Linked DNA regions of Homo sapiens: region 1 is linked to region 2. The links come from fine-mapping of genetic effects on gene expression. A gene starts in region 2. The other region holds a variant in brackets. All regions are shown on one strand. Distances are between the middles of the regions. Region 1 has its middle 22 kb from the start of FAM110A. Region 2 holds the start of FAM110A (family with sequence similarity 110 member A).

Region 1 (5,374 bases), 22 kb before region 2:
TTCTTGTGGTTGCCGGTCTGAGATGCATGTTTCCTTGCCAGCTGGGAGCTGGAGGGCCACTCTCAGTTCCTAGAGGTCACCTTGGGTCCTAGCCTTCTTTCATGTCCCTACTTTCCCCACATCCCACGTCCAATACATCCCCTGTTGGCTCCACATTCGGGGTAGATCCAGAAAGATCCAGAATCCCACACCCCTCAGCCCCCACCGCCTCCACCCCAGTCCAACTCCTTCATCTCCTGCCAGGACTATTACAGTAGCCTCCTCCCTGCAGCCCTGCAGCCCATTCTCCACTTGGTAGCTGGAGATGGGGGAAGGTGTTAAAATGCAAGTCTGATCCTGTCCCACCTCTGCTCAGATTCCTCCCACGGGTTCTCAGAGGAAAAACCAATGTCCTCAGCCAGGTGCAGTGGCTCTCACCTGTAATCCCAACACTTCAGGAGGCTGAGGTGGGCGGATCACCTGACGTCAGGCATTTGAGACCAGCCTGGACAACATGGCAAAACCCCATCTCTACAAAAATATAAAATGGGCGTGGGGGCACGTGCCTGTAGTCCCAGCTACTTGGGAGGCTAAGCCGGGGAATTACTTTAATGCAGGAGGCGGAGGTTGCAGTGAGCCGAGATTGTGTCACTGCACTCCAGCCTGGGTGACAGAGCGAGACTCCATGTCAAAAGAAAAAAATACCAATGTCCTCACCATGATGTATGTGACCCTATACCATCTAGCCTCATTCCACATGGAGCACACCTCCTAGCCCTCTCCCCTCACGTCCTTCACTCCCTCCTTGATGGCCTCCATGCTGTTCCTCAAACACTCCAGGCACATACTGACTCTGTTTCCTCAGCCCAGAACACTCTTCCCTGCAGACACCCCTTACCTCCTTCTGGCCTCTCCTGAAATATCACCGAGCCGGTGACACCTTATCTGACCATCCTGTTTAAAAGCATGAGATCTGCTTCTAATAAAGCTACCCTTACCACGAGGTCCAGCAATTCCACTCCGTGGTAGTTACCCAAGAGAAATGAAAATATGCATCCACACAAAGAGTTGTTCACAAATGTTTATAGTAGCTTTATTTGTAATAGCCAAGAAATGGGAACAACCTGTATGTCCGTCAACAAGTTGGATGAATAAACAAAATACAGTGCATCCACACTGTGGAATACTACTCGTCAGTAAAAAGGAACAAGCTACAGATACACTCAGCAACACGGGCGAATCTCAACCAAGTCCATGATGCTGACTGAGAGAAGCCAGATTCCATTTGCATGAACTCTGGGAAAGACAAAGCTGATCTACAGTGAAAGAAAACTGATCTGTAGTTTCTTCGGGTGGGAGCGGGTGGGAGTCAGGGGCTGACTGTGGGGGGCGTGAAGGAACATGGTGGGATGATACAGGAATTCTAGCACTTGTCTGTAGTGCCATACAACTGTCAAAATGCATCCAACTGTACACCTAAAATGGGCCAATTTTATTGTTTATCAATTCAACCTCAATAAAAAAAGGAAAAAAAATCTCTAGTTCCCCATCCTTCCCTGCTTCATTTTTCTCCTTAGCATTTTCACTCTGGCAAGTATTGTCTGTGTCCCCTCTGGAATGTCAGCTCCTCGAGGGCAGGGATTTTTATCTGTTTTGTTTTCTGTTGCATCTTCAGTTCCTAGAAGAGTGTTTGGCACACAGTAGGTGCTCAATGGATATTGATGAATGAAGGAATGAATTCAGTCCCTGCAGGCTGATTCATTGACAGGGATGGCTGTTTTGGAGTGTCCATACACCCACCTGGAGGCTGCAGAACAAAGGCGAGATGGGAGGGCCTGTGAGACTGTGGGCAGTGGCATCATTCCATCTGAGGCCGTGTCATTGCTCAGGCATTTGGACGACGCCATTCCCGGGGCGGTGTCATGCCCACCAACCACCTTGGCGGGTGGCCCAGCCCAGAACCTGATGTGCGTTAGCTGGGATTTCCTTTGGGTGCTGTGTGTGTGGAAACCCAAATATGACCGTAGAGGGTGGAGCCACAAAACCAAGCTGGGCAGAGCCCACAGTGTGGCATGAGGTTGCCCGGGGGCGGTAGCTGGCTGGGCCTGCAGGCTTGCTTGTCCGTCTCTGTTTCAGGTTTCTTGTCTACTTTCACTTTACTTTAAATGTATTTTTATTTTTTCTGCACAGATAACACATTCACATGATTCAAAATTCAAAAGGTGTGCAAAGTAGTGAGTCTTGCCTCCCACCCTTGAGCCCAACCCTCGGGTTCCCCTCCCCAGGGGCAGCCAGCATGCAGGGTTCCCAGGATAATTCTCCAGGGTTCTGTGCCAGTACAAGAGTACATGGACATGTGTTCCTGCTTCCACAAGCAGCAGCACACTGTGGGTATCATGCCACAACTTGTTTTGTTCACTGACCTGTGTTGTGTATCTTGTGATTCCACATCAGGTGTTTGCAGGACATCTTTTGAGGGCTGCCTAGGATTCCCTTGC[G/A]TACCTGGGCCTGAGTTTCTTTAGCCATTTCTCAAATAATTTCCAATTATTTGCTATTGTAAGCAATGATATAATAAATAACTTAAATGCTTGGTATATGGGGGTAATTTTACATGTAAGTTGTTACTTGCCCACATTTAAACGGTGAGAGAATAACATGCCAAACATTTTTTGCAGCCTCACTAATCAGGAGAACTTGGAAGCTTTGGCCCCACTAAGTCCGAGATCCTGGATTACAGCAGACTGGGCAGGGCCTCTCCATTTACCTCCGTCCCACCCCTGATTTGCCAACAGGAACACTGGAGACACAGACAGGGAGTGACACACCTACCCAGGGACACAACACATGCCAGCGGGGCTTGGACCCCAGAGGGGTGAGTGCCGGGGGCCTCTGCCCTCCCTGGCTGTAACCTCAGTCACATGGCTTCCCGCTTCTGAGACTACGCTGGAGGAAATGGGAACCACGCCCACTTCATCATGATGCCCCCTCCCAGGAACGAACTCCCCTGGAGCAGCTGGCTCTGTACTGGACATACAGTTGGTGCTTGGGGCTTGGTAGGTGTTCATTAGCTAGTTTATATATACATTATTCTTCCAATGGTTTAGATGTGTAAATATTGACAACAAATTACCTTTTTTTTGAGACGGAGTCTTGCTCTATTGCCCAGGCTGGAGAGCAGTGGCACAATCTCGGCTCAGTGCAACCTCAGCTTCTGGGCTCAAGCGATTCTCCTGCCTCAGCCTCCCGAGTAGCTGGGACTACAGGTGCCCGCCACCATGCCTGGTGAATTTTTGGATTTTTAGTAGTGACGGGGTTTCACCATGTTGGCCAGGCTGGTCTTGAGCTCCTGACCTCATGATCCACCCACCTGGGCCTCCCAAAATGCTGGGATTACAGGTGTAAGCCACTGTGCCCAGCCTACAGATTACATTTTTTAAAACCTGTGCAATGTATACAATGCTAGTCCTGATAGTGCCCCAGTGCCCAGGATTAAGGGATTTGTCCTATTAGCAGACACTGAGGTGGGGGTGGCCCAGCAATCCACACAGTATAGAAGTAGCAAAGGTGGGATTTGAACCCAGGCCACCTGGCTCCAGGTGCTCATAGTCATCACATCTTATCAGAGACCCGGGGCACTGGTGGTTAAGGGAGGGCACTGTTTGATAGTGAGACCACACACACACACACACACACACACAAACACAAACACACACACGTGCACGCGGTGACAGGACAGGGCTGGGCAAGACTTGGGCCTGAATCATAACTGCAACGTAACCTCAGTGAGGCAGTTGTCATCTCTGAGCCTCAGTGTCCTCACCAGTAAAGTAGCTACTGAGCAGGGGTGAAATTAGAAACAAACCAAGAAAAAGATTTGCAAGCTGCAAGGGCTGCAGGCCTGTAGAGGATGAAGGGATTTATCCTGCCGGTGGACACTGAGGGAGGAGGGACAATAGGTGGGGAGGGAGGTCTGGGACATCCAGCATGCCCTGTTTGCCCTTAAGAACCTTCCAGGACTGCCTGGCCCAGCTGTCAGGTGGCCTTGATCCCAGCCCGGCACCAGGCTGGCAGGCTCCAGACAGAGCCCCCTGGCTCCAGCTTGGCACCCCAGGGAGGGTAGGGGCCCAAGCTAGGGGCTGAGCTAGGCTATTTTCAAACGCCAGAAGGCCAAAGGGAAGGCCCCAGCTCCCTTCTTCCTACATAGGCCCCCTCCACAGCCTGGAGTACTCCTTTCCTGTCCTAGAACCTCCCTAGAGACCACAAATGCCTCACAGCTCAACTGGAGAAACCAAGGAACAGAAAGGATCGCCCAGCTAGAACTTGAACCCAGACCTCCTAATTTCCAGGAGCTAGTTCTTTCCAGCATTCACTCACTCATTTTCACTCATTTCTTTATTCACAAATGTTTATGGAATGCCTACTCTTCCCCTGAGGCTGAGGACACAGCCTAGAGCAAGGCCAAGTCCCTGCCTGCTGAGCTGCACTCTGGTGAGAGATCCAGAAGAGAAACAGACAATGTGGCCTCTGGTTAATATAAGCCAGGAGGTGATATGTGCTAGGAAGAGAAATAAACCAGGCCAGGGAAGTAGAGACTGCTGGATGCTGACTGCTTAGCTGGAGGGGCAGGGGGGTTGTGGTGGGTTGGTAGGGAAGGCCCCTTTGAAGAGGCAGAGATGGAAATGAAGTGACAGAATGAGTCATCAGAATATCTGGGTAGGGTCGATACTAGTAAAGGCAATGGCAAGTGCAAAGGCCCTGAGGTGGGAATGTGTCCAGGGTGTTCCTGGAACAGGAAGGAGGCAGCATGGCTGCAGCAGAGTAGGTAAAGGGGAGACTGGAGGAGTAACAAGGTCCCCGATCATGAGGGCCTTGTGGAGCAGTTAGGCCTTTCGGTTTTATTTTAGGCTGCCTGGCAAGACAGACCCTCACATTGTTCAAAGGCTCCAGCAGCCCCACACCATCTGGCCCTGGTGCTTCAGGCCCAGCCCCACCCACCTTCTCTGTGTTCCTGGAATCTACTCCTCCCACCACAGGGCCTTTGCACATGCCCTCCATCTAGAATCATTTTCCACTCCTATCTTTCTTCTCCTCGTTGTCTCCTACCTACCCTTCACATCTCAGCTTAAATATCTTTGGCTTCTCAGATCAACCTGGCCAGGTCAGCAATCTCTCCTTCCGGAATCTACTCTCAATGGTCATACAATTATTAGGATGATCAATTAACATCTGTCTACAACCTAGGCTGTGAGCTTCACAAGAGCAGGTGTTTTGGTCCATTTTGTTCACTGCAATATCCTCGGGGTGGGACCAGTAGTTGGTATATAGGAGGCCTCAATAAATATGTGCTGCGTTTGTAAACAAATGAGTAGCACAAGCACTTTATAAAGATCATCTC
Region 2 (5,374 bases):
GGCACAGGAAAAGATGCTCAACACCATTAGTCATTAGGGAAATGTAAATTAAAACCACAATGAGACACCACATCACACCCCTGAAGATGGCCATTACCAAAAAAAAAATACAAACAGAAAATAACAAGTGTTGGTGAAGATGTTGAGAAATTAGCACTTTGTGCACTGCTGATGGACACATAAAATGGTGCAGTCACTGTGAAACACAGTAAAGTAGTTCCTCAAAAAATTAAACAGAATTGCCATAGGATCACCCAGCAATTCCACTTCTGAGTGTATACCCAAAACAATTAAAAACAGGAACTCAAACAGATATTTGTACATTCATGCTCAAAGCAGCATTAGTCACAACAGCCAAAAGCAATCCAAGTGTCCATCAAGGAATGAATGGATAAACAGAATGTGGCATATACATAGAATATTAGAATAGATTATTCCGCCATAAAAAAGAAAATTCTAACACATACAACAACATGGGTGAAACTTAAAGGCATTATGCTAAGTGAAATAAGCCAGACACAACAAGACAAATACTGTTATGATTCCATTTATAATACCTAGAGGTACCCAAAGTAGTCAAATTCACTCAAACAGAAAGTAGAATGGTGATTGCCAGGCACTGGGGGGAGAGGCAATGGGGAATGTACTTAATGCCACTGAACTGTATACTTAAAAGTGGTTACAATGGTAAATTTTATTTTATATACATTTTAATTCATTCACTGCCCCACCCCACCCCCCCCCCCAAAAAATGTAAAATTTAGAGCCAGACTCTCTGGGTTCAAACTCCACCTCTAGGTTATCTTATGCAAATTATTAAACCTCTCTTGTGCTCAGTTTCCCCTCTGCAAGATGGAAATAAGAACAGCAGTAATTACCTTATATCACAGAGTTGAGGGAATTAAATGAGTTCATACTTGTAAAGTACTTAGAACATAGTAAATGCTCAAGAGGTGTTAGTGATTTTTATTCTTTGGTGAGGGGGTGGGAGGTGTGGTTTCCAAAGGTTATAATTTTCATGACATTCTACACCCAACCCGCCCCCTTCCTCCCACCTGCTTCTTTCTTTCCCTTCAGCAGAAGCCTGGCCTAGATTTGGGGAGGCCCTTGCCTGCCCCAGAGGAGATTGGGAAGGCTCCAGGCAGTGGCAAGGGGCCAGCCAGCAGGGCAGCCCCAGCTCAATTTCAGCCCAGCTGTCCAGGTCAGGGACACCCAGCTGGGCCACCTCCAGAGCCACACCAGGCCCTGAGCTATTTCTGGAGGCCTCCCAGACGCTGGTGCCCTGGCCTGCCCAGGAGTCAGCCTTGCTCAGGGTGGCCTTGCACTAACATTAGGAAGGGAGAAGGGAGTAGGCTGTGGAATGGGTGTGGATGTGGACATCTAGGCCCACTGATACCAAGTTGATCTTCTAGGCCTAGGTCTGCACTTGAGGTTGCAAAATGGGGATGAAGGATTTTGCAGTGAGGACAGAATGGAAGATAACACATGCAAGGTCTTGGGGAAGGGCCTGGCACGCAGGATTAGAAAGGGGAGGGGGAGGCAGATCCACAGCCAAGCCCACTTCCTATCCTAGACTGCCCTCTGCCCAGGCCTGAGTGCACCATCATGACTTCTTAGCTCAGCCCAGAGACTGAAGAAACTTACTCAATGTCACAGAGCAACTCAGGGACAGGGCAGTGGTTTCATGATTTATAAATATGCATATATATACACATATATACATATATACACACATACATATATATACATATATGTGTGTGTGTATATATGTGTGTGTGTATATATATATATAGAGAGAGAGAGAGAGAGAGAGAGAGAGAGAGAGAGATGGGAGGACTGCACTTCATGAAGGCTGTGTGAGTTAACCTCCTGCCTGCAGAACACACAAATGGTCCATGAACGTTAGTTTCAGTCTTGATTACTGAGGTTTTGGGCATCCCTAAATTTTGCACTGGCTCAATTGCCTCAGCCCCTGCCTTGCATCACAGTGGGAGAAGATGATACATTTGCTAATAAGTAAAAAAACCAAAACATGCAAGAACCAGAGCAGGGCTTATGAAGTCAATAAATAATATTTGTTGAAAGAATAAAAGAAAGCCTTGTTTTCTTTCTGAGTCCTCGGAGATCCTGTCCCCCAAAGCCAGGGGCAGGCTCCAGAGGAGAGAGGATATGTAACTCCCTTATGAAGAGATTGAAGACTCTCAAAATGCATGATTCTGTGTGTCAAGGATTCTAAGATTGAAGCCAGAGGGACTAGGAGCTAACCACTGCATTGTCTGACTGTGACTTCGAAAAGGGGCTTAACTTCTTAGAACCTCCGTTTCCCCACCTACAAAAGGAGACTGACAATAGCAACCTAGGGGGCAGGGGGTGTCCCCAGGAGACACAGCAGGGTCTGGCCTAGGTCAGCTGCTCCACCTGGGGGGATTCCGGCCCCACTCCCAATTCCAAAGTCTCTGGTGACTAGTGGCTTTGGTTTAGGGACTGGCTCTATTCCCTTCCCCAAACTGGGGATGATTCCCAAGAGGCCAGCAGCGGCTCTGGGGGCTGGAGAATCTGCTGCCCCTGCATCCAGCCCAGAAATGTCAGTCCCGTCCGATCCCCAAAGAGTGGTCCTCTGTCCCCGTAGACAGAAAGGCGCCAAATGAGCCGAGTCCAACCCCGGACTGCGGAGAAGGAAAGACAGACGCCCAAAGGGGGTATCCCGAGGACAGTGTGGGGCGCGGGGATATGTGATCCAGCCAGGGGTCTACAGGTCCCTGCCGATAAAACGCTGGGAAAATGACTACCAGTTGCCCGTCTGGGCCTCTCAAGGCAAGTCCAGATGTGACTAGACTAGGGGGCTGCGAGGTGGGGCAGAAAGACTTGAACTGGATTCTCCGCCAGAGCTCGCCGGGCCGGGACACTTGCCTCTCTGAGCCTCAGAGTCCTCATCTGTGAAATGACACGCAGGTACGACGCGGGGAGAAAGCAGACAGCAGACGCTCGGGGAACGGGGCCCCCAGACCCGGGGTCGCACCCGGACCCACCCGCGCCCTCACCTGGAGCCCGCGCTAGGCGTGTCCCGGCTCCTCTCGCGCAGGCTTTGGAGAGGCTGACAGCTCGGACCCGGGCCGGTAGTGGCCGCTCCCAACGACGCCCAGGAGGCCCCAGCCCCGCGTGGGCACCTTTGGGGTCCCCTTTGGAGCTGCCCTCCGCGGTCGAGCTGAGCGGGTGGCCCTCACTGTCGAAGGCCCCCACCGCAGGGAAAGTCCCTGGGGCGCCGTGGAAGGGGAAGTGAGCACGCCGCCCCCCTTCACACCAGAATGGTTCGCCCCGGACTTCCTGATTGGTTCCTCGCTTCCGTTCGAACGGCGCGCCGCCAGGGTTGCCAGGCGACCGCTTAGCTTCCCCCGCCCGAAGGAGAGGCGCTGCTCAGCAGCTCCGCCCGCTCCTCCCAGCCGGCCCCACCTTCTTCCTGCCGCCGCTTCAGCCCCGGCGCCTGGTTCTTTCCCTTCCTCCTCCTCCCTCCCGCGGCCAGCTGGGACTTCCTCTAGGACCCCAGCTGGAAGAGCTCCAGTTAGAGGGCCCTGGCTGGTTCCTAGTCCTGACTTTGACGCTAACTCCCTATGTGACCCGGTGCAAGCCCCTTCCTTTCTCTGTTCTCCTAACTGCATGATGATGAGTGAGTTAATTTTAAAATGTGCATACCCAGCAGTCCCGAAATTTACAAAGGAAATGACCAAAGATATGAGCAAAGATTAATATTGCTCAGCCTTATTCATCATAGCAAAATAATGGAAACAACTTCAATGCCTCTTGAAAGGGATTGGTTATATAATTCCATCCTGTGGAGGAGCTAACTTAATTGAGCTTTTTGCATGCCGGGTAGCTTTACAGAACAAGTCTTGTCAAGGCTTATGACATAACCCTCTAAAAGTACTTTTAATTATTAACACTTTATTTATTTCTTTATCTTTTTCTTTTCTTTTTTTTTTTTTTTTTTTGAGATGGAGTCTCACTCTGTCGCCCAGGCTGGAGTGCAGTGGCAGGATCTCAGCTCACAGCAGCCTCAATCTCCTGGGGTCAAGCAATCTTCCCACCTCAGCCTCCCAAGTAGCTGGGACTACAGGTGTGCACCACCACACCCGGTATTTTCTGTATTTTTTGTAGGGATGGGGTTTTGCCATGTTGCCCAGACTGATCTTAAACTCCTGAGCTCTAGCAATTCTACCAACTCAGCCTCCCAAAGTACTAGGATTACAGGCATGAGCCACGCCACCTAGCCTAATTTTTCCCACTTTCTGATGAGGAATATTATGCAGCCATTAAAAGTGAAGTAGCTACCAGGAGCAGTGGCTCACACCTGTAATCCCAGCACTTTGGGAGGCTGAGGCGACCAGATCACCTGAAGTCAGGAGTTCAAGACCAGCCTGGCCAACGTGGTGAAACCTCGTCTCTACTAAAAATACAAAAATTAGCCAGGCGTGGTGCCACATGCCTGTAATCCCAGCTACTCAGGAGGCTGAGGCAGGAGAATAGATTGAACCTGGGATGTGGGGGATGCAGTAAGCTGAGATCATGCCACTGCACCCCAACCTGGGCAAGAGATCATCTCAAAAAGATAAAAATAAAAGTGAAGTAGCTAGAAGATATTTAAAGATAGGGGGAAATGCTAAGTATTAAACATTGGTTTATTTATGTTTTTTAGAGACAGGGTCTAGCTCTGTTGCCCAGGGTGGAGTGCAGTGGTGCAATCATAGCTCACTGTAACCTAGGTTGAAGCAATCCTCACACCTCAGCCTCCAGAGTAACTAAGACTACAGGCCCGCATCACCATGTCAAGCTACGGGTCTCGCTATGTTGCCCCAGGCCAGTCTAGAACTCCTGGCCTCAAGTGATCCTCCTGCTTTGGCCTCCTGAATTTCTAGGATTACAGGCATAAGCCAATGCACCCCTCCCAAATTTTTTTGAAGTACAGTATGCTTCAAAACACTATGTACAGCATAAATATGTATTAAATACATATGTATATGTGTATAATCATCTATAATCACAGCAGTTAATTTCTTCTTTGTGTTTTTGTGAATTTTCCAAATTTCCAATACTTGAACATGTCAAAAAAGTATATTTTTAGGGGGATTAGAATGAATTAACTCTAAGGGCCTTTAAGGTGAGGAAATTTTATAGCAGTCAGTCTGAATTGCTCAATTTGGAACCAGCTTCTCTGTTTCATTCCAGCTGGTGTCTTTTATTCTTTGTTTGGATTGCCAATAATTGAGAACTTACTGCGTAAACCCCTGGGTGGGCAGGGGAGGGAGCTAATAATATATCAATAGCTAATAATGATTGTACACTCTGGCATGGACACCAACCAAATCAGAGCCAACCACTG

Evidence for each region. PIP is the estimated chance that this variant, and not a neighbour inherited with it, causes the effect.
Region 1: its variant is the best candidate, but not a certain one, in a credible set for the expression of FAM110A in T cells (TOPMed, PIP 0.90).

The regions. Positions count from the first base shown.
Region 1 is chr20:853,161-858,534 of GRCh38, reverse strand. No RefSeq gene overlaps it. Among named protein-coding and RNA genes, the nearest start is that of FAM110A, 22 kb to the right of the region's middle. RefSeq lists an enhancer at 1,399-2,385. The variant G/A (reference allele first, on the strand shown) is at 2,478.
Region 2 is chr20:831,619-836,992 of GRCh38, reverse strand. It overlaps FAM110A (family with sequence similarity 110 member A), which reads right to left and starts at 3,278. Exons shown (of 2, transcript NM_001042353.3): 1 at 3,042-3,278. RefSeq lists an enhancer at 1,262-1,361 and a silencer at 2,878-3,027.